Regions from separate parts of the Homo sapiens genome. Here all the other regions are linked to region 7. The links come from fine-mapping of genetic effects on gene expression. A gene starts in region 7. Each other region holds a variant in brackets. All regions are shown on one strand. Distances are from middle to middle. Region 1 overlaps PLCG2 (phospholipase C gamma 2). Region 2 overlaps PLCG2 (phospholipase C gamma 2). Region 3 holds the start of LOC124903731 (a long non-coding RNA gene). Region 4 overlaps PLCG2 (phospholipase C gamma 2). Region 5 overlaps PLCG2 (phospholipase C gamma 2). Region 6 overlaps PLCG2 (phospholipase C gamma 2). Region 7 holds the start of PLCG2 (phospholipase C gamma 2).

Evidence for each region. PIP is the estimated chance that this variant, and not a neighbour inherited with it, causes the effect.
Region 1: its variant is the best candidate, but not a certain one, in a credible set for the expression of PLCG2 in lung (TOPMed, PIP 0.56).
Region 2: its variant is the best candidate, but not a certain one, in a credible set for the expression of PLCG2 in prefrontal cortex (GTEx, PIP 0.82).
Region 3: its variant is the best candidate, but not a certain one, in a credible set for the expression of PLCG2 in whole blood (TOPMed, PIP 0.89).
Region 4: its variant is the best candidate, but not a certain one, in a credible set for the expression of PLCG2 in atrial appendage (GTEx, PIP 0.61).
Region 5: its variant is the best candidate, but not a certain one, in a credible set for the expression of PLCG2 in whole blood (INTERVAL, PIP 0.51).
Region 6: its variant is the best candidate, but not a certain one, in a credible set for the expression of PLCG2 in whole blood (INTERVAL, PIP 0.74).

Annotation. Positions count from the first base shown.
Region 1 is chr16:81,860,226-81,864,291 of GRCh38, forward strand. The region is part of intron 5 of PLCG2 (phospholipase C gamma 2); the gene reads left to right. Among named protein-coding and RNA genes, the nearest start is that of PLCG2, 83 kb to the left of the region's middle. The variant A/G (reference allele first, on the strand shown) is at 2,461.
Region 2 is chr16:81,894,667-81,898,732 of GRCh38, forward strand. PLCG2 (phospholipase C gamma 2) reads left to right here. Exons shown (of 33, transcript NM_002661.5): 13 at 1,141-1,261. Among named protein-coding and RNA genes, the nearest start is that of SDR42E1, 110 kb to the right of the region's middle. The variant G/T (reference allele first, on the strand shown) is at 2,379.
Region 3 is chr16:81,830,591-81,834,656 of GRCh38, forward strand. All of the region lies in intron 2 of PLCG2 (phospholipase C gamma 2), which reads left to right. It overlaps LOC124903731 (a long non-coding RNA gene), which reads right to left and starts at 1,304. Exons shown (of 2, transcript XR_007065139.1): 1 at 1,208-1,304. RefSeq lists enhancers at 654-1,235, 1,236-1,817, 2,508-2,557. The variant C/T (reference allele first, on the strand shown) is at 2,450.
Region 4 is chr16:81,877,063-81,881,128 of GRCh38, forward strand. It overlaps PLCG2 (phospholipase C gamma 2), which reads left to right. Exons shown (of 33, transcript NM_002661.5): 8 at 3,848-3,891. Among named protein-coding and RNA genes, the nearest start is that of PLCG2, 100 kb to the left of the region's middle. The variant G/C (reference allele first, on the strand shown) is at 2,198.
Region 5 is chr16:81,840,590-81,844,655 of GRCh38, forward strand. The region is part of intron 2 of PLCG2 (phospholipase C gamma 2); the gene reads left to right. Among named protein-coding and RNA genes, the nearest start is that of PLCG2, 63 kb to the left of the region's middle. RefSeq lists an enhancer at 2,143-2,202. The variant G/A (reference allele first, on the strand shown) is at 1,606.
Region 6 is chr16:81,866,068-81,870,133 of GRCh38, forward strand. It overlaps PLCG2 (phospholipase C gamma 2), which reads left to right. Exons shown (of 33, transcript NM_002661.5): 6 at 3,147-3,231. Among named protein-coding and RNA genes, the nearest start is that of PLCG2, 89 kb to the left of the region's middle. The variant C/A (reference allele first, on the strand shown) is at 1,924.
Region 7 is chr16:81,776,780-81,780,845 of GRCh38, forward strand. PLCG2 (phospholipase C gamma 2) reads left to right here and starts at 2,512. Exons shown (of 33, transcript NM_002661.5): 1 at 2,512-2,645. It overlaps LOC105369213 (a long non-coding RNA gene), which reads left to right. Exons shown (of 4, transcript NR_189584.1): 4 at 393-574. RefSeq lists silencers at 2,005-2,299, 2,328-2,597, 2,628-2,727, 2,738-2,817.

The sequences.
Region 1 (4,066 bases), 83 kb after region 7:
AAAGCAAACGCAGTTTTGGTTTTTCTTTAGATTAATGCATTGTCATTTCGGAAATCATTTCCGTGTTGATGCACAGAGCGCTGCTCCCAATCCTTTATCATTACTGTGATTAATGCTGCTGTGGAAACCTTTGGGTCTATCTTTCTGTAAACTCATTTGAGGGAGCTGTGAGTGGGGTAAATTCTCAGAAACGAATACCAGCAGCACAGCGTTTGCTGGTCTAATAGTTTGATAGCGAGAGGTAGCAATTTGTATAATATTTCTACCAGTGGGGCAAGAGGGCACCCTTTCCTGATGATTTATTGTGCCATTAGACTTTGATCTTTGTTCATCTGCAACCGAGGCAACCAAGTGTTTTTGCTTAAACTTGCTTTCTTTATGGGTGAGGTTGAGCATTTTTAATTCATTATGTTTTTGAGGTATGATTCAGCTCTTGATAATGTAATGATAAAAACTACCATTTGGCCAGGCGCAGTGGTGTACACCTATATTCCCAGCACTTTGGGAGGCAGAGGCAGGCAGATTGCCTGAGCTCAGGAGTTCGAGACCAGCCTGGGCAACACGGTAAAACCCTGTCTCTACTAAAATACAAAAAATTAGCCAGGCATGGTAGCACGCTCCTGTAGTCCCAGCTACTCAGCCTCAGGAGGCTGAGGCAGGAGAATTGCTTGAACCCGGGAGGTGGAGGTTGCAGTGAGCCGAGATCGCGCCACTCTACTGTGGCCTGGGTGACAGAGCAAGACTCCGTCTCAAAAAAGCAAAACAAAACCAACCAAACAAAAAACAACAAAAAAACCCACCACGACAAGAAAAAACCAAAAAAACCAAAACCAAAACCAAAACCAAACCCTACCATTTATTGAACAACCGTGTATTTGGCATGCCAGGGATTGCATTGAGCTCTTCAGTCCTTGTCTCATGTTAGCCTCACGTGAGGCACCTTATTTTTTTGGTAAAATATTCCTTTCATTCATTCTTGATTTATTTATGTCATTATCCTATGTGGATATGTCATTATCCCATCTAGATGTGTCATTATCCTAGTTAATATCCAATAACTAAACTCTGTCAGCTCTCTTATTTTGTTCCTGAAAATCTTTCCATCTTGAAGGTGACTTCGTGTCTGGTCAGTGTCCTCTGTTACTTGTTAGCTTCAGGGTTTGGGTGAGCTTCCCTGGTTTCTTCACATGCCCGATGGGAGGATTTGGAACTATTAACTAGGAAGTGGTTAAAAGTCTAGTAATGTTAGGTCAGCCATTAGCTCACTCCATGTTTTTCTGTCCACCTGCCTTTCTCTCCGTCCTCTTCTTCTCATCCAAAATGCCCTGCCTGCTCCGCCACGCTGGGCCACCCTCTCGTGTTACTGAGGTGGATCAAATGAGGTGCTTGTGTTGGAAGATTTGGTACACACTGGTCTCTTTCAGCCTCGGAGGTGATGCCTCTTCTGACTTTTCTTTCTCTGTGGCTTATGATGATTCATAGCTGAGATTGGCACAGGGCTGAGAGAGGGAGCCACCCTCAGTGCCTCTCTCCACGCGGTGCTGGTATGGTATGGCCAATCTGGCTCTGAAGTCGGCTCTTCGTTTGTGAGGTCAAGAAATGGATACCACCCTCTTGCTCAGGAGGCATTCTGGCAAGTCCTGCATAGAGATCCATCTTCCCATCGGCTGGTCCAGGACCCTCTGCAGAGAGAAACTTTTCTGTTTCTGGACTGAGTTCATCCCTGTGTGCTCACCGGCTTCCTCTCCTCTACCTCCCTCCCAGTGGGCAGAGCCCTGCTCTCTGTCAACATGTGGAAAATCCCACCTTTCCTGTGGTTCTGGGAAGCCTGGAGGGAGCTTTGCAAAAGAAACTTTGACCAAGATGCCAATGAAAGAGCAACTGACTTCTGTCCTGCCAATTTCCCTCCCTTTCCTGTCACCCACGAGACGAATCGTGTTTCCTGAAGGAAAACAAAGGAGCCACAGAGGCAGAGGAAAGACTGAAGGCGAGAGGGGGCAGGCTCAGGGCTGGCCCAGCCCGGGCAATGGACAAGTCTTAGGTGTTTTGCTTGGCCCAAGCACGCTGTTTCATTTTTTGACTTTTCTAGAGGCAAATGGTAGCAGCGGGCATTTGTTTACAGCCTTCTTTGCAGCCGTGGCTGTAATAAGCACTTTACATCCTTAGGATATGCTCTTGGCTGACGGTTGAGCTAGGTGCTCTCAGACACGTTTTCTATGTGAGGACACTGAGGCCCAGAGAGGTTAAGTGACTTGACTAAAGCAGCCCAGGTTGTCAGGGGTGGCACCAGGGTTTGCAGACTTACTTTCCCCACTGGTGTTGCTTTTCCTTTTTTCTTTTTTCTTTTTTTAAATGTGCTACTGGCCGAGCATGGTGGCTGACACCTGTAATCCTAACAGTTTGGGAGGCCAAGGCGGGTGGATCGCTTGAGCTCAGGAGTTGGAGACCAGCTTGGGCAAC[A/G]TGGGGAAACCCTGTCTATACAGAAAGTACAAAAAAGTTAGCTGGGTGTAGTGGTGCACATTTGTAGTCCTGCTACTTGAGAGGCTGAGGTGGGAGGATCATCTGAGCCCAGGGAGGTCAAGGCTGCAGTGAACCATGATTGTGCCACTGAGCTCCAGCCTGGGCAACAGAGTGAGATCCCATCTCAAAAACAAAAACAAAACAAAACAAAACCAAAAACAACGAAAATAAAAACAATTGTGCTGTTGAGAGCTGGGGGAAATGCAGAAATCTTCCCTTCCCCACCCTGACCAATCACCTTATGATTAAAAAAAATTAAAAACAAATGTTAAAATTTGTTTTATTGTGGTAACAACAATGAAACATAGAACAACATTGATCATTTTAACCGTTCTTAGATATGTACTTCTGTGGGATGAAGTATATCATGTTGTCATGCTCCCGTCACCACCATCCATCTCCAGAACTTTTTATCATCTCAAACTGAGGCTCTGCAGCCATTAAGCAGTAACTCCCCATTGATTCTCTCTTTAGCCCCTGGAAATCACCACTCTACTGTCTGTCTCTCTGGATTGGATTGCTCCAGGTACCTCATATAAGTGGACTAGCAGAATATTTGTCCTTTTGTATCTGGCTTATTTCACTTAGTGTAATGTCTCCAAGTTTCATCTGTGTTGTAGCATGTGTTAGAATCTTCTTCCTTTTTAAGGCTGAATAATATTCCATTGTACAGATAGACCACATTTTGCTTATCTACTTCTCCATCGATGGACACTTGAGTTGCTTCCACGTTTTGGCAATTGTGAATAGTGCTGCTGCGAACATGGGTGTACAAATCTGTTTGAGTCTCTGCTTTAAATTCCTCTGTGTATATATCCAGAAGCTGAATTGCTGGATCAGTTGCTGGATTGCTGTGTATATATCCAGAAGCTGAATTGCTGGATTTATTTTGCCGGATTGCTATACTGTTTTCTGTAGCAGCTACACCTTCCCAAGGCAGTGCACAGGTTTCTGTTTTCTTCATATCCTCACCAACACTTACTTCCTTTCCCTCCTCTGCCCTTGCCCCCTTGGCGTATAACATTGGATTTGCATAAGTAGAATGTGCACTTCCCTTTGTCCTTTAGCCCTGGCAGGGACAGAGGAACTACTCTACCAGGAGGTGGCAAAGGGTGAGGGGGTTGCAGGTGGAAGGCAGGTGGGTGAGTCCATTTATCTCATTCAGCGTGAATGCAAATAGGCTTCCTATTTGAGACTCCAGAATGTTAGAGTCACCTGGGGAAGCTTTGGCAGAGCCACGGCAGTAGTGATTCGGGTTTTACTGTTCTGGGCATGGCCTCTGGCGTTGCAAATTTTTTAAATAAGATTCTTCTGTGAAGCTGGGGTTGAAAATTAGGGCTGTCTAGAGGGCAATTTTCAAATCTGAGCATGCACCGGAATCCCCTGGAGGATTTGTGAAAGTGGAGGCTGCTGGGCTCCATCTCACAGTGGCTGATTGAGTAGGTGGTGGGCAGGGCTCAAGAATTTGCATTTCAACCAATCCCCAGGTGATGTAGATGCTGCTGGTCTGGGAGCTACTTAGAGAAGCAGAACTCTGGGGCTGCGC
Region 2 (4,066 bases), 120 kb after region 7:
GCTTGAGATCAGTCTGGCCAACATGGCGAAACCCTTTCTCTACTAAAAATACAGAAATTAGCCAGGCGTGGTGGTGCACATCTGTAATCCCAGCTGCTTGGGAGGCCGAGGCACAGGAATCACTTGAGCCTGGGAGGCAGAGGTTGCAGTAAGCTGAGATCGCGCCGCTGCACGCCAGCCTGGGCAACAGAGGGAGACTTTGTCTCAAAAAAATAAAAATAAAAAATAAATAAATAAAATAAAAAAGGCATCAACTACTGACTTAGGCTCCAGTGTTACCAAAACGACTCATCATGGAAGCAACGTTTTGTAGCAGTTACTCTATAGACTTTCTTCCCGTTTATGATTTTTCTCCTCCCTCAGGAAAAAACAAATGTTTAAAAGTAAAGCTTGAAGCAGTCAGCTCCTGTGCCCTCCAGGGGTCCAAAAGATTGGGGATGTTCATCTTCCACATGACCCATTTCTGTTTGAAAATATTACTGTGAACCTTTACAAATAAATTTCTCATTGCTCTGTATCATTTCCACGGGCAGAAAAGGCAGTCAAGGTTTTCAACAGGTAAAGTCAGAAAATAAAACACGTGGTAAAATCTTCTTTAAAAAGAAGCATTGAGGTTGGGCGTGGTGGCTCACGCCTGTAATCTCAGCACTTTGGGAAGCTGAGGTGGATGGATCATGAGGTCAGGAGATTGAGACCACCCTGGCCAACATGGTGCAACCCTGTCTCTACTAAAATACAAAAAAATTAGCCGAGCGTGATGGTACGCGCCTGTAGTCCCAGTTACTCAGGAGGCTGAGGCAGGGGAATTGCTTCAACCCGGGAGGCGGAGATTGCAATGGGCCGAGATTGTGCCACTGCACTCCAGCCTGGGCAACAGAGCGAGACTCTGTCTTAAAAAAAAAAAAAATGAAAAAAAAAGCAGCATTGAAACTAGCTTGTCTTGGACAGCTGCACTTGCATTATGTAAGCGCACAGGGAACCCTGCGGATACAGGGAAAGCCATGTCCTCGTGTTGGCAGCCGAATGGAGGGAGTGTGGGTGTCCTTGTCTAGTAACTGAACTGGTGTGTGGGCCGGGGGCTGACCTCGGGGCTGTCAGTGAACACACGTGGTATTGAGGCTGCCGCGTTTCTCCCTGTAGTGGACTGCTGGGACGGGCCCGATGGGAAGCCGGTCATCTACCATGGCTGGACGCGGACTACCAAGATCAAGTTTGACGACGTCGTGCAGGCCATCAAAGACCACGCCTTTGTTACCTCGAGGTCAGTTGGCTGATTTCTGGGTGGTGTGACTTAAAGGGGAAGGCAGCTAGGGTTGGATAGACAGATGGACAGACAGGCAAACACACACAGACACCTCCCTCCAAATGCGGGAAGGCCTGGGCCCCATCTTGGCCAAAGCCACTGCCATCAAGTTCTCACCCGAGTGTTGGCACCCCCTGCAGGCCGAGAGTGCAAGTTGCTCCCGGGCTCTAGAGCCCCGAGGAGGCTCTGGCTGGGGAACCCTGTGGCTGCTCAGTGCCCACCCCACCTCCTCATTCTGTCTGGCCCCCACTTTCAGAACCCCCGAAAGAGAGGGAAAGGCTGGGCGCAGTGGCTCACGCCTGTAATCCCGGCACTTTGGGAGGCTGAGGTGTGATCACTGAGGTCAGGAGTTCGAGAAGAGCCTGGGCAACATGGTGAAACCCCTTCTCTACCAAAACACACACACACACACACACACACACACACACACACACACACACACACACACACACACACAAATCATCTGGGTGTAGTGGCATGTGCCTGTAGTCCCAGTTACTTGGGAAGCTGAGGTGGGAGGATTGCTTGAACCTGGCAGGCAGAGGTTACAGTGAGGTCACATTGCGCCACTGCACTGCAGCCTGGGCAACAGAGCGAGACCCTGTCTCAAAGGAAAAAAACCCAAAAAAACAAAAACCAAAAAAAAAGTGAGGCAAGGAAAGTAAAATTCCCCTTCTGTCCTAATTCCCTCTTTTGTGCCCAGTTCTCACCCCCACCAAACCTGTTTCTACAGGCGGAATCCAAGCAGCCAGTAATGGTGGTGGTGTGTTTTTTGAATACCCACCTGGGGCCAGGCTCTGTGCTAGGTTCTTTGTACAGGTGATCATATTGATTCTTTGCCACAAAGTGAGTATGGTCATCCCCATTTAACAGATGAGTAAATTGAGACAAGGAGGGGTTAAATGGGTGAGAACATTTAGGTTCATTTCAAGGGTTTCTGACCTCAGGTGTAATCCTTTTCTGTCCCACCAGAAGATCTTGGTCTGGGCTGGAGGTCAACGAAATTGTTCTATAAAGAGCCAGATACAAATGTTTCAGGCTTTATGGGCCCTGTGGTCTCTGTTGCAACTATTCA[G/T]CCCTGTTGCTGAAGTGCAAAGCAGCCATGGGCAAGAGGTAAACACATGAGTCTGGCTGTGTTCCAGTTAAAACTTGAATTACACATTACAAAAATAGATGGCAGGCCAGATTTGGGGCAGAGGCCATCATATGCCGACTCCTGGTTTGGGTTCCTTGTTATTTCTGAGAGCTGGCAAGAGGCCTTCTATAGGCTCATTGGAATGATAGTTGTCTTTTTATACTTTCTGGGGTAGAATAGCAGTTACGAGTATGGGTTCTGAGTCCTTCTCGCTGAGTTTGAATCCAGCTGTTGAGTACTAGTTTGGGCAAAGCACTTACCATCCTATGCTTCAATTTCCATGTTAAAAAATAGAGGTGATAACTGTGTGCACCTCACAGGGCGGTTGTGATGATTAAATGAGATGCCATTACAGCAAGTGCTTAACCCTGCACCTGGCATAGAGTAACTGTTGAGTCAATAAGATCGATTATTTTTTCTCTTTTTTTCTTTTCTTTTCTTTTCTTTTTTTTTTTTTTTGAGATGGAGTCTCCCTCTGTCGCCCAGGCTAGAGTGCAATGGCAGGATCTCGGCTCACTGCAACCTCCACCTCCTGAGTTCGAGCAATTCCCCTGTCTCAGCCTCCCGAGTAGCTGGGATTATAGGCATCCACCATCATGCCCGGCTAATTTGTGTATTTTGGTAGAGATAGGGTTTCACTATGTTGGCCAGGTTGGTCTTGAACTCATGACCTCAGGTGATCCTCCCGCCTCAACCTCCCAAAGTGTGGGGATTATGGGCATGAGCCACCGTGCCCAACCCGATTGGTTATTTTTATTGCATTTACTGCAGATGTCCCTTGAGCTGGGTGGAGGTGTTGCTGTGAGACAATGAAATTATGGACGTCTTTTCGCACTTGGTGAAAACCTTTCAATGAAGGCATATGATTTCTCCATCGCAGCATTCTCCCCTGTGGGGTCCTAGCCCTTCTAAGTGCCAACCTCCATCAGGCAGATGGAAGGAGCTGGTATTAACAGACACTGTGCAGTGGCAGCTTACACTCTGCTTTGAGAGTTTGCTTTCATTTGCAGGACATAGGTGCTTATGGTTGTGAGCTGACAGTCATTCATCGAACATTATCTCATTCATGACTAGAGGAAGTTTTTTCTGGTTAAAATAGGGCTGGAATCATCTAACACCTATAGGGCTAGAACTCTGTAATCAAACATTAATGCATTAATGTTTTGGCAGCAAAAGCCATCCTTATTGGTATTAAGAGGGATTTAAGAAAATGATTGCAAGCAGCGTTCATTCGAATGGTTCAGATTTTGCTGTCAGTTACATTTTGATACCAACTTACTAGGTAGCCTTTGTTGTAAAAGCTTTTTAGCTGTTATGTTCTAGTAAGGGTGTGTGGATCAGGATCGGGGAGTGAGCTGGGTCCACGCTTCCCAGGAGTGATGAGGCTATGATTTACTTGAGCTGGAACATGGTTAAGGATTTTATTTTTATCATCGTCACTTTATTTTCACATTTGCCTTCATTTCTATTGAGTGACGTGATTTCCTATTTATGGAAGTGACATAGCTGCCTTTAGAATAATTTTGTTTCATAGTAAATGCCATGCACAAGCCTCAGATGGATTCTTGGTGGGAAAAACTCCATCTATACAGTATATTTCTTGGATAACTGGGGAAATTTGAGTATGT
Region 3 (4,066 bases), 54 kb after region 7:
AGCCCCCATGCCTGGTAAGACTGTGTCTTAAAAAACAACAACAAAAAAATGTGTGGGGTGTGTGTGTGTGTGTGTGTATATATATATATACACACATATATTTTATATATGTATATATATGAATGAAATGGCAAAATCATCTGCCAAGGGCTGCAGCTGACTCCAGAGGACCCTGGAGGAGACTGACAGACACAGTGTGTGATAGTGGAGGGGGATGGGAAGGGTGAGGGGGGCATCGGGCTTCTGGATGACTGAGGGTATATGCAAGTGCAGAGACAGCGTGACTAGAATGTCCAGGCAGGAGAGGGGAGATGGACAGGCACTGCGGGTCATGAGGGTTTCAGAGAGCATACGCAGTGTGTCCCAGCTGGTGACAACCTTGCTCTTCCTACAACCAACCATACACATTTCCATCTTGGGGCCTTTGCATTTACTATTTGCTCTGCCTGAAATATTCTATCTCAGACATCAGCCCAGATGTCACCACCTCTGGGGAGGCCTCCCTGATAACACCTTCTATGAGAGCCCCTCCCTCCTGGTCACACACCATGCTTTGCTCTTCTTTGGTTTAGTTTTTGTAGCACTTGTGATTGCCAAGTGTAATAAATATTGACTTGTCTCTGTCTCCTCCTATTAGAATGTAATTCTTCGAGGCCAGGAATTTGGTCTGTTTTATTCATAGCTGTATCCCCAGCTCCCAGAACAGTGCCTGGCACGCTGGCTTTTACCTACTCTTTGTTGACCTAATGGCTGAATGAACGGACGTGACCATCATCGTGAGAATCTGTGGATAATAGCAGCAAACATTTAAACACAGGCTGTGTGCCAGGCACTGCACTAAGCACTTGGCCATGAACTTGGTCTCCTTAAATCCTCATGTCAATGCCACGAAACTGGCCCTCTCTATTTGTCTCAGTTTTACACCTGGGGACATGGTGGGGTTAGTATTTGAACCTCATCCAACCCCATACTCCAGTTGGGACCCCTGGCTGGGTCTCTGACCAGTGCTGGGAAAGAGGGAGGCAGGTAGATTTCAGCCCCAAGCTGTGGAGTCCAGCAGGCATTTGTACCCCGAGTGGGACTCAGATCCTTGTGTTAGGGGGAACTTAGGCCAGAAGTGCCTGGGCTAGAGGGTAATGGGGACCCCAGGAGGCTCCCCGCTCTTGCCCCAATCCTGCCTTGTCTGAAAGGGAAGGAAGGCTCTTACCTTCTAGCTGTCTGCAACAGGAACTGCCGGGAGGCCACGCTAGCCATCCCCCAACTTTGGTTTGCAAAACTCTGAGCCTGGTGGGGAAATGAAGGGCTGGCTTGCTAACCACAAATGAAGACTCATTTGCACAGGCAAAGCGGGGGCAGGGGTGACTCCTCTTGCCCTAGCGGAAGGGACTGACTTCTGCAGGCTGCTGTCTTGCTGGAGCCAGTCATGCCCCACCATTGAGCCTGGGCACTCGGACACAGTTACCAGCAGTGGGCTTTGTCGTCCTCCGGCCTCAGTCTTCTCCTTTGATAAATGGAGGGGGGGAATAGTGATATTGTGGCGATTCTGTGGCACTCAAATGAGGAAATGCACATAAAGCCTTTGCTCAGTGCCTGACTCATGGTGAATACTTGGGGGGATATTCACCATCATTGTTAACAGTGGTAGTGGTCAGAGGTGGCAGTCACCATCAGAGCCTCTCTCCTGGGCTCCGCTCCACATGGCAGCCACATTTTAGGAATAATCCTCAGATTAAGCAAAAGAGGTTAAGTGAATATTCCCTAATGCATGCTCTTCTTTTCCTTTTTGAGTAGAATCTGTCCCCACCCTGCCTTTTTTTGAGACACGATCTCACTCTATCACCCAGGTGGGAGCGCAGTGGCATGATCACGGCTCACTGCAACCTCTGTCTCCTGGGTTCAAGCTATCTTCCCACCTCAGCCTCCCAGGTAGCTGGGACTACTGATGTGCACTACCATGCCCAGCTAATTTGTGTGTGTGTGTGTATGTATTTTTTGTGGAGATGGGATTTTGCCGTGTTGCCCAGGCTGGTCTTAAACTGCAGAGCTGAAGCCATTCTCCTGCCTCAGCCTCCCTTAGTGCTGGGATTACAGGCATGAGCCATTGCGCCCAGGCAGAATCTACCATTTTAATTACACTTCTGTGAGTGGTATGATATCCAGTTGACTGCGTGAGGATCAGATCCCATTCTTGCAAAGCTAGAGAATGAGGCAGAGGCCTGCCATCCTTGCAGCTAGTGGGAGACCCTGTGGGTGACCCATTAGCCATAAGAGAGCAGGCTAAGTGCCCAGATAGGAAGGTGTCAGCGTGTGAGGCCCAGGCAGCCAGTGGTCAGCCGATACTTGAAGGCCTCCTGTGTGCCCAGCTTGCTGCTGGGGCCATGACAGTAACTGAGGGAAACAAGTCACGCTTGTGAGATGTGATGAGGACCTGGAAAGGGAAGTCCAGAAG[C/T]GGAAGGCAACCTCTCAGAGAGGGGGTGTCTTGTGGGGACTTACAGCCAAGGTGAGGGTGCTTTCCTGCTGGCACCCACCTCGCAGAACCCATTCCTTCCCTGAGTCTGGTCTGTGAGAAGAGCCCACAGCATGAGGATACCACGTTTGGGGTTCAGCAACCCCAGAATGAAAATCACCCTTTAAAGAAGGAGTGCTTTACCTTTCTGTGGGGGCCACAGCCTGGTTGTGTGTTAGAGTCACTGGGCTCTGGAGAAGCTTCTGGAGGACTGGGGCCTTCTTTCGCAATCTGTCCACACCCCCAGGGTCCTTTTTCCTGGACTGTGGCTCCGGTCGGTACACGGGTCCTGAGCCAGTATTCTGGCCCGGGGTGGCCGTTCCCTGTGGGTGAGGAGGAGGCACCTGGAAGCCCCTGGCCTCTCCTGTTAATCACTGACAAGGTAAAAGGATACTCCTGCCTGTTTTTTTTTTTTTCAATTTCAAAATTTAAAAAAATCTTTTTTTTTTTTGAGTCAGGATTTCACTCTGTCACCCAGGCTGGAGTGCGGTGGTGTGATCACAGCTCACTGTACCTTCCACCTCCTAGGATCAAGAAATGCTCCTACCTCATCCTCCTGAGTAGCTGGGACCACAGGCATGCACCACTACTCCTGGCTAATTATTATATATATTTTTTTGTAGAGGTGGGAACTTACAGCCAAGGTGAGGGTGTTGCCTAGGCTGGTCTCGGAATTCCTGGGCTCGAGCTGTCCTCCTGCCTTGGCCTCCCAAAGTGGTGGGGTTACAAGCATGAGCCACGGCGCCCGGCCTCCTGTGTGTCTTGCCTAACGATTGCCTTTGGCGATGGGAGTGCTGAATGCTTCTGGCATCTCTCTGTCTGCAGAGGCTTACCTGACTTCAAAGGAAGCATTCATCTTTAGCCAGAAGCTAGCAGGTTCACCCCAAGGTTTTCTGAGAGGTCATTCAGGGAGCAGCTGCTGGAACGTGGGAATGGGGACAGGAGGTAACTGGACTTACCTTGTCTCCGGGCCTTCCACTGTGGGCCACCCGCACAGACTACCCTGGTGTCTTTGGCATCAAAACCCAGCCAGGTGGCCTTGAATGGGTGACTTCATCTTCCTGGGCTGTCTCTGGAAAATGGGGCTTTCTTCCCAAGATTGGTGGGAGGATTAAAGAGATGTTGAGGTCAACTCTGACACCTATTAAATGTTCAGTAAGGGGGACCTGGTTTGTTCTCTGTCCCAGTAGGTGTTTCTGCCCTGAACTTGACCTCGGAGGGCTCGGTGTTCTGCTGGCTGCTGGCAGAATTGTGAGGGCGGTCTGTGTGAGAGTCTTAGCCCAGGAGCCGGCGCGGGTGGTGTTGGAGAACTCTGGGCCTGCAGCTAGACTGGCAGGACTCAGACCCCAGCTTGCCCAACCTGCCTGAGCCTCAGTTTCCCCTTCTGCAAAATGGAGTTGATGATAATGGTAGTTACTTAGGGCTTTGGGAGAGACCGCTGAGATGATGGACAGAGAGCACTCGTCACGTGGTTGATAGACCCTGGATCTGCAGAGCTGCTGCTGCTGCTGCTGCTGTTGGGAGTTTCAGAGCTGGGGCTCCTTGAGGGATGTTCCTGAG
Region 4 (4,066 bases), 100 kb after region 7:
GGAGGAGTGACTGAGACTGTCACCGTCTTGCCCCAGCTCATGGAGCCCATGTTCATTTCCTGGGGCCGCTGTGGCAAGTACTGCAACTCGTGGCTTAAAAATAACAGAAGTGTCGGGCACGGTGGCTCACGCCTGTAATCCCAGCACTTTGGGAGGCCAAGGCGGGCGGATCGCGAGGTCAGGAGATCGAGACCATCCTGGCTGACACGGTGAAACCCTGTCTCTACTAAAAATACAAAAAAAATTAGCTGGGCATAGTGGCGGGTGCCTGTAGTCCCAGCTACTTGGGAGGCTGAGGCAGGAGAATGGCGTGAACCTGGAGGCGGAACTTACAGTGAGCCGAGATTGCGCCACTGCACTCCAGCCTGGGCGACACAGCGAGACTCCGTCTCAAACAAACAAAACAACAAAACACAGAAGTTTATTCCCTCACTGTACTGGAGGTTAAAAGTCCAAAATCCAGGTGTTGGCAGGGCCACACCCCTCGGAAGGCTCCAGGGAAGGATGTGTTCCAGACATCTTTCATGGCTTCTAGTGGCTGCCAGCAATGCTTCAAGCATTCCTCGGAGTGTGGACACCGCCTGGCTGCTGGTGGCTGCCAGCAGTCCTACAAGTGTTCCTCGGTGTGTAGATGGCATTGCTCTTTGGTGTGCAGACACCATCACTCCTCGGCATGTAGGCGTCATCGCTTCTTGGCGTGTAGATGTCATTGCATCGCTCCTTGGCTTGTAGATGTCATTGCATCGCTCCTTGGCTTGTAGATGTCATTGCATCGCTCCTTGGCTTGTAGATGTCATTGCATCGCTCCTTGGCTTGTAGATGTCATTGTGCCAGTCTCTGCCTCCATCATCACATGGACCCCTTTTCTCTGTGTGCTTCTCTGTCTCCAAATCTCCCTCTTTTTTTTTTAATTTTTTTTTTTTTTTTTTTTTTTTTTGAGAGGGAGTCTCGCTCTGTCACCCAGGCTGGAGTGTAGTGGCGCCATCTCGGCTCACTGCAAGCTCTGCCTCCCGGGTTCACGCCATTCTTCTGCCTCAGCCTCCCGAGTAGCTGGGGACTACAGGCGCCCACCACCACGCCTGGCTAATTTTTTGTATTTTTTTAGTAGAGATGGGGTTTCACTGTGTTAGCCAGGATGGTCTCCATCTCCTGACCTAGTGATCCGCCTGCCTCGGCCTCACAAAGTGCTGGGATTACAGGTGTGAGCCACCGTGCCCGGCCCAAATCTCCCTCTTTTAAGAAGCCAGGCACTGGATTCGGGTCCACCCTAACCCAGCAAGGCCTCATCTTAACTTGATTGCACCTTGCAAAGACCCTAATTCCAAAGAAGGTCATGCCCATGGGTACTGGGTATTAGGACTTGGACATATATTCCCGGGGACACCATCCTATACATAATACTAGCTATAACTTTTTCTATCTTTAGAACGTCTTCCTTGATCACCTGTGCCCCATACTGTCAACTACAGCCCCATTTATCTGCCCCCTTTAAAGTAACCTACTCCAAGAGCTGTCTACGCTTCCCTTCTTCCTACTGTCTCTTGAGTCTATTCCCGTCTTGTTTCCATCCCTGCCTCCTAGAGCACTTCATCTTGGCACGTCAGCCATCACCTCCATGTGTTGCGAATCCAGAAGTCTGCCCCGTGGTCTTTATCTTGTCCACTCAGCAGCACGTGTCAAAGCTGGTCACTCTCTCCTTGATGTTGTAACTTGCCTTTGGGATGCCCGACTGTCTTCCTTATCTTGCCTCTCACTGTTGGTTCTCTTGCAGCGTTTGTGGCTCTTGGCTTTCATTTGTTCTTTTTCATTCTCTGTCCTGCTCTGCGTCCCAGGGGCCAATTCCTGCAAACACGTTCCCAGGTGCCTGTGCCAATGAGCTTCCGGTTGCTTCAACAAGCAGAGTGTCCGGGCAGGGAGTTGCAAGACCTGGCAGAGGAGGGGAAGCCAGGTCTTTCCTGGTTCTGGGAGCATCTGTACCATGGTGGTACCTCTGCCATTGTCCGAGCTCCCTGAGTGGGGGAATGCGGTGCGGGCTTTTTCTGTGCTTTGTTGAAAGGAATGTAAAGGAAGGAGAGGGCTGAAGAATTGCATGTGGTGGTCAGTGAGGGGGGCCACACACTGGGCTCCCTCCAGATGTAAATAAGCTGGGTGTGGGGCTTTGGGCTTGGAAGTGTTCTAGCCCCTGATGCCTTCAGCA[G/C]CAGGCTGACTTGGTGACCTAAGCAGTAAATGAGTCCAAATAGCAACATGCCCTGTCTAAAATCTGCAACACCACCCCTTTTTAAAAAGAAATACCTATGCTGTAAATTACACATCAACGAAAGGAAGTACTTCTCAGTTTGCCTAAAAAGGCTAAGTTTGCGGCTCTTAACCTTTTGGTGGGACCTACTCCTTTGAGATGCTGATTATGTCTCCAGAAGAAACACACACCCACACAAACTGATGTGGACTCTCTGATGCTTCTCAGAGGCCTGCGATTCCCTTTCTAGAACCCTGATAGTCCCCATGACGTCCTGGGCTGCAAGGAGTTCAGCAAGAGGACCCTGGGTCATCTGGGGTAGGAGATGTTTTATGTCGTTAGCATTGATCATGTGATAGTGGATACATTTCCCTAAGTGCTTATCCAATCGCAGTGTCATTGAAGACTGTTGAAGCAAGGCTACCTGGGCAGAAATGGACAAGATGTGGGTGTGCAGGGTGCCTGTGTACAATGCACAGAAAATGGGCTGGTGCAAGTAGAAGCTGGAGGGAGGGGTGCTCCATGGCGCCCCCCTTGGTGGAAGAGCCTCTTCATCATGCAACAGTTGGCACGGCAGTGGGCTGTGAAGAGAGGAGCTGAAGCAGTCCGATATTTCTTTCGTCTTCTTGCCTTCGAAGATTAGAAATGCATCTTTGAAATACTAAAGATTTGAAATGTTGCCTGTAATCCCAGCTACTGAGGGGGCTCAGGAGGGAGCATCTCTTGAGGCCAGGAGTTCAAGACCATCCTGGGCAACATAGTAAGACCTGCATCTCTACAAAAAGAAAAAATATTAGCCGGGCATGGTGGCGCATGCCTGTAGTCCTAGTTACGCAGGAAGCTAATACAGGAAGATCATGTGAGCTCAGGAGAGTGAGGCTGTGGTGAACTATGGTCGTGCCACTGCACTCCAGCCTGGGTAACAGTGAGACCCCATCTCTAAAGAAACCTGGCAGTGAGGATATAGAAAAAGGTATGTGTACCCCAGTGGAGGTGCCTATCTCAACTGTTTTGAGAGCACCTTGGCAGAATTTATCAAAGCCAATGTGCCTACAATGTGCTGTGTCTACGCGCTTTTCCTTCTAGGACTCTACTCTGTAGAAAAACTGGCACAAGTGGGCAAAGATAGAGAAATAGGCACACAGGGACACTTAAAAATAATACTAGATGTTACAAAAATCAAGTGACATGCTTATTGTGGAATACAATGGTTTTTCAAAGAAAGGAAACAGGGTTATTTGAGGTTGCAGAATAATATGTAAAGCTTGAAACACAGCAAAAAATTGTGAGATGTACGTAAATGTTATAATATGATATGATACCATTAAATGAATATCCCTAAAACAAATTCTAGAAGGAAACCTATGAAATGCTTAAGGGTGACTGCTTCTTGGGAATACGACTGTGGAGGGAATGAGGAGGGCTTCTACCTTTTGCTTCTTAAGTTTCTGTTATATTTGAATATTTACAACTAACATCAACTAAAATGATATTTTTAATGATCTTGTTGCATCTGACAAAATGATGCTTTTTTAACAACAAAAATCTTTCCGTTTTTGCATTAAGTGACTTGTCTAAGGTTCTTTTTTTTGTGTGTGCTTTCCATTTCAGATTCTCGATGAATTCAAAAAGGATTCGTCCGTGTTCATCCTGGGGTGAGGCAGCTCTTGTGTGTCGTTCGGGGCGGCTGTGCCGGACCTCGGTGCCTGGTGCCCAGCCGGCCTCCAGGAGGGGATGCCTGTGTGTGCAGGCGCTGACCTCCAAAGGGGCAGGGGGCCCCTGCTGGGGAATTGGCCATCCCATGCCTGTGGCGTGGATAGAGATGAGCAG
Region 5 (4,066 bases), 64 kb after region 7:
GTACAACCTGGGTCCCTCACATGTGCAGTTCTCAATAAGGTTTGTGCTGCCATGAGAATCTAACGCCGCTGATGATCTGACAGGAGGTGGAGCTCAGGCAGTAATGTTCGCTAGACCCCTGCTCACCTCCTGCTGTGCGGCTCGATTCCTAACGGGCCACAGACAGGTGCCAGTTCATGGCCTGGGGATTGGGGACCCCTGTCTTGGAGGCAGCTCCCTTCCGAGTGGCAAGGAACAGGGCAGGGCACGTGGTCCCTTGGGGGTGGATCCAGCTAGAACAAGATGAAGAGGCTGAGTATCCTCAGTTCCTTTTTCCAGGGAGTGGTCCCTTCCTCCCTTGGGGATGGGGAGTCCCAGAGGGGAGAGAAGCACCAGTTTCCCCAGTATCACTTAAAACTCTTATCTATTGAATAGTTCTGCATGAATATGAAGCATTAGAATCACAGACCTAATTATTTGAGCATAATGATCTGGGAAGAATCTCTTCACATGGAAGCAGGACACTGATTTTCGCCTCTGCTGTCAGCGCAGTGGCAACAACTCTGTTGTTTATTATCTTTTTAACAAAGAAGATAAGGGCAGGCCCACCCCCTATCTGCAGGCCAAAAAGTAAACTTTATTTATTTATTTATTTATTTATTTATTTATTTATTTATTTATTTATTGAGATAGAGTCTCACTGAGTCGCCTAGGCTGGAGTGCAGTGGCATGATCTTGGCTCACTTCAACCTCCGTCTCCTGGGCTCAAGCCGTTCTTCTCAGCCTCCTGAGTAGCTGGGATTACAGGCACCCAGGCGCTTACTACCATGCCCAGCTAATTTTTGTATTTTTAGTAGAGACAGCATTTCACTATGTTGGCCAGGCTGGTTTCAAACTCCTGACCTCAAGTGATCTGCCCACTTCGGCCTCCCAAGGTGCTGGGATTACAGGCATGAACCACTGCGCCCGGCTGTAAACTTTACTTTTTGCAAAGTTTTTTTTCAGATATATCTCTATAGGGTGTATGTTCTTTTTCCATTTCATAGATGAGAAAATAGACAGTAAGCCAGAATAGAGGCTTCTTCATACAGCCAGGAGAGAAAGAGCTGGATTTAACTCATGCCTGCTAGATCCTTCTAGAGCTGGGCTCTTTCTGCTCTACCGTGTGTGCCTCGGAAGCCCCTTTTGTCATTACATGTTCTTCTGCTGTGTATCTCACCTATTCCCCCAGCTGCCATGTCAGACGCTGCTACATGTGTGAAGTAACCTAACACCTTTGGTTTTTCTTAAAGCAGGGTCCTTGGCTGAGATCAGTAAGCAACGCTGGGGCTTTTTACTTAAAGTGAAACCACCAGCAGCTGGGAAGCTGGTGTTGCAAGGTGGTACAGAAAACCATTCAGCCTAGTAGCTAAACTCACCTTGGTGGAGCCCTCCTGGGGCCACGTGATTTTTATTTCATGTTATTTCATTTGGTTTGCATGACAACTCAATGATAAGCATCACTGCTTGTACAGCGGAGGAAACAGCAAAGAGAAGGGATGCAACGTGCCTGGTTCCTGTGCACCCCTGGGGAGCATAAGCCAGGATTTGAACCAAGGTCTTTGTACTCCAGAACTCCCTACAAAG[G/A]GAGGCTTTCTCCTCTTCTTCCCAGGTGAGCTCCAGTCTGCAGAACTCAGCCAGGATGCATGTGCTCAGAGAAGCCTTTCTTCCCCTTGCTGGGGAGGAGCCCCAGTGTGGACTCTGTTGCACTCCTGATGTGGATGGAGATGTGGATATTCACATATCATATGCCGGCCTGGACAGGGCCTGTCCTCCCTCCCAGACTCGGAGCCGTCTGAGGGCAGGACTGTGTCTGTCTCTGCAGTGTGGCATCCCTAGCGCTCAGCGTGGGGTTCTGTGACTGCCTGGTTGACTGAATAACTGAAAGTCGGAAAAGAGGTTGGGGTATGTGTGGGAAGGTGCCCAAGCCTTCTGTCTGTCTGTTTGCTCGCTTGAATATGTCTTGAGCTTCCAGAGAGAAATTTTTGTTAAGCTCATTGTCAGGTGTGGTGCCCCTTGAGGTCATGTATGGGAATTGGGGAAAAAGCCATGTTCCTGGTGTCAGGGGTGGGAGGACGTTCCGTGGGTGCAGGGAGCCTGAGAGAGACAGAGAATCAGTAGCGGGAGGAGGAAGGAAATGGGAGCTTGAAGAACAGGGTCATGGCCCGGCCAGCAAAGGGGTCGGTGGTGTAAAGCGGGGAGTGAGAGGAAGCTATGAGACGTACGGAGGGGCCAAAAGTCCGCAAGGCTGTGCCAGAAGGTGATGGGTAGGCAGGGAGGGCTGAGGGAGGGTGGCTGGAGTGGGGTGCCGGCCTTTGAGGCTGACTCTAGGAGACTCAGTGTGTGGGGGTTTGTTTGCAGGGGGTGGGAGTGGAGGGATGGGTGGTGGGGGTGGGGTGGACCTGGGAAGACCCGAGGTGATGCTGGGAAGGGGGTGGGGTTGTGCAAAGATGAAGCCTCATTTCTGTGGCTGGGTTATCTCACTTTCTTCAAGCAGGAAACTCGGCCACTGAGCCCCACCATGCAAGAGTGCATGGCCTGAGGTCTGCTGACCACAGCCTACTTTGAGAATAAAGTGTTGTTTCAGTCACTATGAGCCCTTGGCAAAAATTTGAACCCATGCAGACAAAGCCCTCCTTGACCATCATTTGCCCATCTCCTTCTCACTAGTAGTGCCTGTTGTCAGCAAGTTGGTGGAAATCTTTTGGTACCCTTTCTCACACCTTTACACTCATACGTGCACACTTACAAATAGGCACATTCCTTCTTAGCTGAATCCAGTACATTCCTGAAAACACACTGGAGAGGAACATTTTTGGATTGCAATATATTACATCATATTACACAGAGACAAGCGCTGATGCATTACCAACTGATTGAAACACCCCAGCCAATTTCCTTAGTATCACTTAACAACCTTAAGTACCTAAAATCAGCCTACCAATATTTTTCGCGTGAATACAAAGCATCTACAGCAACAAATGCCCAATTTTTGGGTGCTTTGATGAACCCATTGCTAAGCATGTTTGCAAAAAGTACATAGGATACTATACAGTAATGTTTCTGAATTAGGATATTCTTCTATCCTCCAACTACCTTGTACTGTAATGGAAAAAACAATGAAATGATCTGCTTAAAATACTAAAGATTCATTTAAATTGGACCCTGGTTGGTAGTTTGCTTGTCAGAAGCAAATGCTGGGATGAAAGAAGAACTCAATAGAATGGGCAGGATGCCGGGTTTGATGTGCCGTTGGTTGTGTGTCTAACTGCTTCTCTTCCATTGCAGACAGACACGCCTTTCCTTTCCTTTTCTGTTTCTGTTTCCTTTTCCTTTTTCCTTTTCGTTTTTCTTTTGTTTTCTTTTTCTTTCTTTCTTTTTTTTTTTGAGAAGGCGTCTTGCTCTGTGGCCCAGGCTGGAGTGCAGTGGTGTGACGTCGGCTCACTACAAGCTCTGCCTCCCGGGTTTATGCCATTCTCCTGCCTCAGCCTCCCGAGTAGCTGGGACTACAGGTGCCCGCCACCACACCCGGCTGATTTTTTTTTTTTTTTTTTTTTTTGGTATTTTTAGTAGAGACGAGGTTTCACGTGTTAGCCAGGATGGTCTCTATCTCCTGACCTCGTGATCCACCCGCCTCGGCCTCCCAAAGTGCTGGGATTACAGGCGTGAGCCACCGCGCCCGGGCACCTTTTCATTTTTCTTTTCCTTTCTTTTCTTTCTTCTTTCGGATGGAGTTTCACTCTTGTTGCCCAGGCCGGAGTGCAGTGGTGTGATCTTGGCTCACTGCAACCTCTGCACCCCCACAATGGGTTCAAGTGATTCTCCTGCCTCAGACTTCCTAGTAACTGCGATTACAGGTGCATGCCCCCATGCCCGGCTAATTTTTGTATTTTTGGTAGAGACAGGGTTTTGCCATGGTGGCCAGGCTGGTCTCAAACTCCCAACTTCAAGTGATCTGCTTGCCTAGGCCTCCCAAATCGCTGGGATTACCGGCGTGAGCCACTGTGCCTGGCCCACACCTTCACTGTTTTCATTGGCACCTAGGTGC
Region 6 (4,066 bases), 89 kb after region 7:
GCTCCCAGGATGGGCTCCACTGGGCACCAGCATGAGAGGATGCTGGTCTCTCCCTTGCTCCCAGGGTGAGCTCCAACTGGGGCACCAGCATGAGAGGACGCTGGCCTCTCCCTTGCTCCCAGGATGAGCTCCACTGGGGCACCAGCATGAGAGGACGCTGGCCTCTCCCTTGCTCCCAGGATGAGCTCCACTGGGGCACCAGCATGAGAGGATGCTAGCCTCTCCCTTTCTCCCAGGATGGGCTCCACTGGGGCACCAGCATGAGAGGACGCTGGCCTCTCCCTTGCTCCCAGGTTGAGCTCCACTGGGGCACCAGCATGAGAGGACGCTGGCCTCTCCCTTGCTCCCAGGATGAGCTCCACTGGGGCACCAGCATGAGAGGACGCTAGCCTCTCCCTTTCTCCCAGGATGGTCTCCACTGGGGCACCAGCATGAGAGGACGCTGGCCTCTCCCTTGCTCCCAGGATGAGCTCCACTGGGGCACCAGCATGAGAGGACGTGGCCTCTCCCTTGCTCCCAAGATGAGCTCCACTGGGGCACTAGCATGAGAGGATGCTGGCCTCTCCCTTGCTCCCAGGATGAGCTCCACTGGGGCACCAGCGTGAGAGGACGCTGGCCTCTCCCTTGCTCCCAGGATGGGCTCCACTGGGCACCAGCATGAGAGGACACTGGCCTCTCCCTTGCTCCCAGGATGGGCTCCACTGGGGCACCAGCATGATCTGGCTCCTCTCCCCACGACCCCTCTCGCTGCCGCTCTGGTAGCGCCTGTTCCCACTGCTCCTCCACCTTCATCCTGCCCTGGCCCAGCTGTTCCTTGGACCACTCCCAGGGCTGAGGCAGAAAGGTTCTTGCAAGCCCCTGGGGCAACTTCCCTAGCCTGCTGGCCGCTGTGCCCAGCCAGCCCCAGCTGGCCCAACAGGGACTTTTTCTGCCCTCAAGGTCTGTCTGTGAAAGCCGTGGGTGCTGTCCCTGTGGTACCAGTAAGTGGGTGGGGAGCATCTTGTCATTTGAAGTCTGTGCTGTTACAGAGGCCCTTAGAACCAGAGGAAAGGCTGGAGGTGGGGACACAGGATGGCCAGAGTCACACTGGACCGTCTCCAGGGCAGCGGCTGGGCAGTGACGCGCTACTTCCTTCCGCATGCCACAGCAGAAGCTGGGAGGATGGTACAGGGAAACTAGGTGGTTTTCTCCTGCAAGGTGGGGCGAGCTTCCTCTCTTGACCACTCTGTCTCAGCTCTGCTGGACACTTGGCTCCAGCCAGAAGGGTCTGGATCTCATATTCTTGACCCACCCACCCCACTAATTTCACTTCTCCTTCTTGTGTGAGCTACTCGCTTGGAGGCAGTCAGGTGTGGTCATTATGGGCACACTGGGTTGGAGTTTGAGGCTAGCACAGATAAGGTACCAAACTGATCGGTGCCTCAGTTTCCTCACCTGGAAGATGGAGATGATCATGGTACCTGCCTTGTAAAATTGTTCAAACATCAAACAGGTGAATGTGCATATAAGGCACCACCTAGAACAACACCTGTCACCTGATAAGCACTATTGAAGTTTCAGCTTTTGTTACTATTGTTACTGCTGCTGCTGCTCCTTTTGCCTGGGACGTGTTCTCCCTTGCTTCCCTCCCTTTTCTTTTTTATTTTTGGAGATGGAGTCTTGCTCTGTCACCCAGGCTGGAGTGCAGTGGCGTGATCTCGGCTCACTGCAAGCTCCGCCTCCCGAATTCACGCCATTCTTCTGCCTCAGCCTCCTGAGTAGCTGGGACTACAGGCGCCTGCTACCATGCCTGGCTAATTTTTTTTGTATTTTTAGTAGAGACGGGGTTTCACCGTGTTAGCCAGGATGGTCTCGATCCTCTGACCTCGTGATCCGCCCGCCTCAGCCTCCCAAAGTGCTGGGATTACAGGCGTGAGCCACCAC[C/A]GTGCCTGGCCCTCGCTTCCCGCTTCAGCTGAACCTCACTATGTGGCTTCGAAGAAACACTCATGCAGATTCCTGTGACCGAGCACTGGAATTTGATTCAAATCCAGGCTCTGCTGCCTGCCATCCAGCTCTAAGCCCTGAGTTGTGTACCCATGTGACACCCCACCCTTGGCTGTTCTGAGCCCTGGGGGTCAACCATGTGTACTTTGCAGAAGGTAGAATCTGGTGAACAATTAGGCAACTTTAATGCCTGGATGACCCCAGGGCAGCCTGGCACACAGTAGGTGCTCATGTAGGCCTTGTTCCTTCCCACTTCCCCTCCCTGGCCCTTAGTGACCTTGCCTTGCTCTGAACCCCAGTGGCATTAAAAGAAACCTTTATTTTTTTACTTATTTTTGGGGGTGCAGGGGGTCCCCACTTACTCTGCATCCCTCTTGTCTCTTCACAGTGTCAGACTAGAGTCAAATTCAGCTGGGTCTTTCCTGGCTGATTCTGCCAAGCCCGTCCTGTGGTTTTGGTTCCTCTGGGTGGCAGGTAGAGTCAGTAGGAGTCTTGTTCATCCATTCATGTGTGTCGCTAATTAGGTGACAAAGCATTTGGCTACATGAAGAGTGTCATAGTTACTCCTGATGTTTACCCAGGCTTCATTGAATTTCTTCACTTTGACATTCAGAGTCCTGGGCAGAAATCACATCATGTCAACACCTATATTGGGCCTTTGGCATTTCTGTGGCATTTTGTATTGAGATTATCTGGTCATTTGACATCATTTTCTGCCCACACTGAATCTCCTGCAAGACCTTCCTCCATGACCATTCCTGAAGGGTGGAGACCAGCCCTTCTCACTGGGACATCACCCTATACTGGGGATCTCCAGTGTAGGTGCCTCCTCATTGGGGCATCACTGTACGCTATAAATCTCTTATGTGACCTATGTCCCTGGACATACCTGAAGGGTGGAGACCAGCCCTCCTTATTGGGGCATCACCCTACCCTGTGAGTCTGCTATGTGACCCATGTCCATGGACATTGCTTGAGCCTTGCTCATTGAAGTGTCACCCTTACCTTGACTCAATGTCTTGTTCCCAGTTAGTGGTCCATAAATAACTGTTGACCAGGCTCTCTCATAGAGGGCTGCCTGAGGTGGGAACTGATGGGAGCAGCTAAATCCTGTGCTGTTGAAAACCCTCAAGGTGACAGAACTGGGTCTCCCTCTTTTGCAGCATCAGTCTCCGAGAGTTGAAGACCATCTTGCCCCTGATCAACTTTAAAGTGAGCAGTGCCAAGTTCCTTAAAGATAAGTTTGTGGTAAGTTTCATGGCTCAGCCTGGGAATTTTATGAATGCGGAGTGACTTAGCCTCTCTCATGAAGCCGTGGCTTGCCTTTGAGTTCCGTGGAATAGTGCACAAGAAAATCCTTTGCCTCCAGAGTACATCTTAGTTCAGACAGAGGGATCATGGACATATCTGAGGACCATCGTCTCAATCCTAGCAGAGAATGTAATCAATAAAGACCATGTTTACTGAGCTCTTGGACTTGGAACATCTACCCTCAGACCTGTTTTCCATTAGTCCAGCTTTCCCTATTTCCCTGACCATACTGCAGCCCATTTTTTCCCTAGTGAAATGAATGCATGTATGTCTTTTGGAAAATATTATGAAAGATTCCTTGTGTAGGGTACCAGGACCGTGGCATTTTGTATGCAAGTCCTGGTAGTGTAGCTGTCAGAGTTGGCTCTTTTTTCTTCTGTTTCTCCAACCATCCATCCTTCCATACATCATTAAATTTATTTTGTTGTGTAATCAAGTTATTGGTGGGTCTGGGCAGTAAAGCCACTCCATGAGTGATGGGATATAGTAGAGCAGGTGAGGCAAGGATGGAGACAATGGGCACCGATTTTTGCTTACAGGGAAATACTCATTCTTCTTAGGAAATGAGCAACCCTGCATCCAAACAGCCCCAGTTGGAGGACTCCAATGCCCATTTTCAATATCAGCTCCATTACAAGGTTCCTCAGTGCAAAAAGCTCATTTCATTTTTGTATTAATGAGCTCCTGGAAAAATTATCCCATTTTATTGCTTATCAAGCATCCTTTGACCTGCCCCCAATATTCCACATTAATCCAATAATAGAAAAAGAGA
Region 7 (4,066 bases):
CCTGATCTCAGGTAAGCCGCCTGCCTTGGCCTCCCAAAGTGCTGGGATTACAGGTATGAGCCACTGCACCTGGCAGATTATTTTTATTTTGAACAACCAAGTTAGAGTTTGAGAAAGAGATGAAGGGCCTCCAGTACTCTCTTTCAATCCACTGATTCCTTCAGTCGTTCACCTGGGGGGTGGGGTTGGGCTAGGGGTTGGTTAGCAAAAAATGAGCCAAAGAAGAAAATGAATTAAAAACATGAAAGAAAAAAAAGCAAACTGCCATTTACGATGACCATTATCTCACACACAGTGGACATTTTAACTCAAAAATACTATAGGCTCACAGGCATAGATTAAACAGAGAAACCTGTTCTTCATGTTCTTATTTTTTTGCTTGCTTCCCACAGATGAGAGAAAAATCCAGCCAGAATTGGCATCTGTCAAGATAGGCTTTTAGGAGCCACGGCTCCCTAGAGTGGTCTCCACACATTCTGATTATATGCAATCTCATTTTGCCATCAAGAGACTTAACCCACTCCCCTATCCATGTAGACTTTGTAATAATAAATTATACATATATATGACTGAACTAATATATTATGTACTTTATATAACACATACTAAAACAAAAGTGTGAAAAAGATTGGTTGAAATAAATACAAGCTGAAGTTCTAAAAAAAAAAAAAAAAAAAAAGTGAGGCAAAGGAATTGCCCCTAGATGTAGTCATTTTTCCTGGGGAATTGGCCCAATGACTTCAAGTGGTTGATGTCATAATGAGTCCTTCCAAGATCTCTTTAAAAAATTGATGTGTTAAGTGATCTGTGGTGATGAGCACAGCTATACACGCCAGTTGGGAGTGCTGAAAGAAATGAATCCACAGATCTTGTGAAGTCACAAACGAGTCCTATGGCTTGGGATACAACATTGACAGTGAGAGTGATATTCCTCAATTAAAAAACGCTATAACAGGCCGGGTGCAGTGGCTCATGCCTGTAATCCCAGCACTTTGGGAGGCCAAGGTGGGTGGATCACTTGAGGTCAGGAGTTTGAGACCAATCTGGCCAACATAGTGAAACCGCGTCTCTAGTAAAAATACAAAAAATTAGCCAAGCATGATGGCATACACCTATAATCCCAGCTACTCAGGAGGCTGAGGCAGGAGAATCGCTTAAACCTGGGAGGTGGAGGTTGCAGTGAGCCGAGATCGTGCCACTGCACTCCAGCCTGGGCAAGAGAGCAAGACTTTGTCTCAAAAAAAAAAAAAAACAAAAAAAAAACAAAAAAAAAAACAAAAAAAACCAAAAACACACACACACAAAAAAAACGCTATAACAGACCAGTGGCACATGCCTGTGATCCCAGTGCTTTGGGAGGTAGAGGCAGGAGGATTGCTTGAGGTCAGGAGTTCAAGAACAGCCTGGGACACATAGTGAGACCTCATGTCGAAAAAAGAGAAAATTAGCCAAGTGTGGTGTGCCTCTATAGTCCCAGCTCTTCAGGAGGCAGAAGCAGGAGGATCGCTTGAGTCCCGGAGTTCGAGGATGTGGTGAGCTATGATGGCACCACTGCACTCCAGCCTGGGTGACAGAGTGAGACCCTGCCTCTTAGAAAACAGAAGCTATAACTCAAGCAACTTGGAAGTGAAATTCAAGTGCCTGACAGCTGTCTAGGTGCCCCTGAAACTGCCTCTAGTCACAACAAAGATACCTCCATCAAAGAGCATAGGAAGGGTTTGAATCAGATAGCTTCATGCAACACACGAACGGAAAAATAAATTTCTTAAAGAACATATTAGCTTCTTCCCATGAGATCAGGAAAACGGGACATCAATTGTCTGGGGTTCTTTGCTCCTGACTCCCTTTGGGGCTGGCACTATGTTGATCACGTTTTACAGATGGGGAAACTGAGGCTGTCGGTTTTTAAGTGGTCTGCCTAAGGTAGCAGTAAGGGTTGGTCTGACTCCAGCGCAGCCTCAACGAGGGCTTCAAATTAGGGCCATGAATTGGCAATTCCTGGCGGGTAATTGTGAAGAGTATATTTATTTTTAATTTTTATTTATTTATTTTTGAGACGGAGTGTCTCTCGGCCACACCCATCCTAGCTCATTGCTGTCTCGAACTCTCGAGCTCAGACGATCCTCCCGTCTAGGCTTCCCAAAGAGCTGGGATGACAGGCGTGAGCCCGGGCGCCCGGCCGGGAGTGTGTTAAGTATACGGCAAACACCTGGACTGCGGCCGGCTCTCCAGGAATGCCATGATATTGGGGAATTCCCTTTGCACCTGGCCAAGTGGCCTCGGGCAGGTAGCCTCCCCTCGGGTTGCCTCAGTTTCTTCTTTGGCACGCAGAGGCGGGGCTCCAGGCCTGGGCCGCTCCATGGCGGGGAGGGCGCGGGGACGCTGCACTCGGGGTGCGCTCCGAGAGGCGGACCCGGCTGGGCGCGCCTGGGGCGGGGCGAGGCGGGGCGAGGCTGGGCGGTGCGGGGGGCGGCCCCCGAGGATCACGTGGCGCGGCGCCGCGGCCGAAGCAGAAGTAGCGAGCGCCGGCGGCGGAGGGCGTGAGCGGCGCTGAGTGACCCGAGTCGGGACGCGGGCTGCGCGCGCGGGACCCCGGAGCCCAAACCCGGGGCAGGCGGGCAGCTGTGCCCGGGCGGCACGGCCAGGTGAGCTGCCCGGCCGGGAGCGAGGCAGGCAGGGCGCCCAGGGACCTGCGCCCCGCGGGGACCGGCTCCCAGGGCGCTGCGTCCGAGGGGGTCTGCGTCCTGGCTCAGCCGGAGCGGGCAGGGACGGGGCGCACCCTCGGGGACCCCGGCCCGCCGTGCCCGGGGTCCGTTTGGTGACGGCAGGGATCCTGGCCCAGCCGCTGGCCACTTCCTCACCCCGGGCCGGCGCCACCTCTCCGGTCCGTGCGGTGGGGCGGCCCCAGCTTTGAATGGGGACCGGGAGGAAGGTCAGGGGTCGTGTGGGGGCTGGCGTTCAAAACTCCTCTTTTCGAGCGGCTCTGCGTGGGGTGGCGCCGTCTCTCTTGACGGCCCTTGTGCCCAGAGCTCGCGGACGCTCGGAGCCACACTTCCCTGTCTCACTTCGGTGGTTGCGGGTGGCGGGTGGGAGCGATACCGCGGGAGGCGCAGTCCTTCCCGGAGACTTTTGGAGAGCTTGCAGGACACTCGCGATGCCCGCTCCGCAGCTGTCTGCGTAATTATGCGTGTGTCTGTGCGTGTTGTGTTTTGTTGTGTTTTGGAATCCCAAAGAGGGCATTACCCGCACAGCGCAAGAGTTCAGGTTAAAGACGTGCCCCGTTTGGACGGGGAGCTCCTGGATTCCAGCAGGACGGTGGGGCGGGGCTCTCTTGGTACCCTAATCTTGAACTAGGGTGAGAAACTATGGGGGGCGGGGTGGTAAAGGGGTGACATGGCGCGAGGGAAACAGGTGGCCTTGCCCGTCGGAACTTAATTTGAATTTCAGTTCCATCAGTGGGACCCTGGGCAAGTTGAAGAACCTTTTTGAGTCTGTTTCCCCCTCTGGATACTGGAGCCACCCAATTTTCCAGGGCTGTGTCGAGAATTGGGGCTTATTGCTGTTCCACGAGGTTCGCTGAGAATCGGGGCGCATCCATGGAGAGTCCTTGGGCAGTTCCTGACTCTCTGGTTCAAGGGCATTCTCTGGGGCATGGGCCCTCGTCCTTGACTACAGTTCTGCGGGGAAGTTTTACAGAATTTTGAAGTCTATGCCAGCCTCAAGCAGTTTCTCTTGCAAAGGTGTGTGTGCAGTCACGTGTATACCAGCTCAGGGACAATCGTCATTGTGAGCCTCACTGATGTTTAAGTCACCTAATGATGCAGCTGCCTTCCCCCACCAGCGACTGGAGTATGGGCAGTTCCTCTGGAAGTGGAAAAGCACAGACCCCATGAATAGCCCTTTTGCACTCATTGGGTAGAGTCAATGAAAAGCTGCTGGTGAGAAAACTTTTGAAAACATTTCTTGGTCAGGCACGGTGGCTCACACCTGTAATCCCAGCACTTTGGGAGGCCGAGCTGGGCTGATCACTTGAGGTCAAGCGTTCCAGACCAGCCTCACCAACATG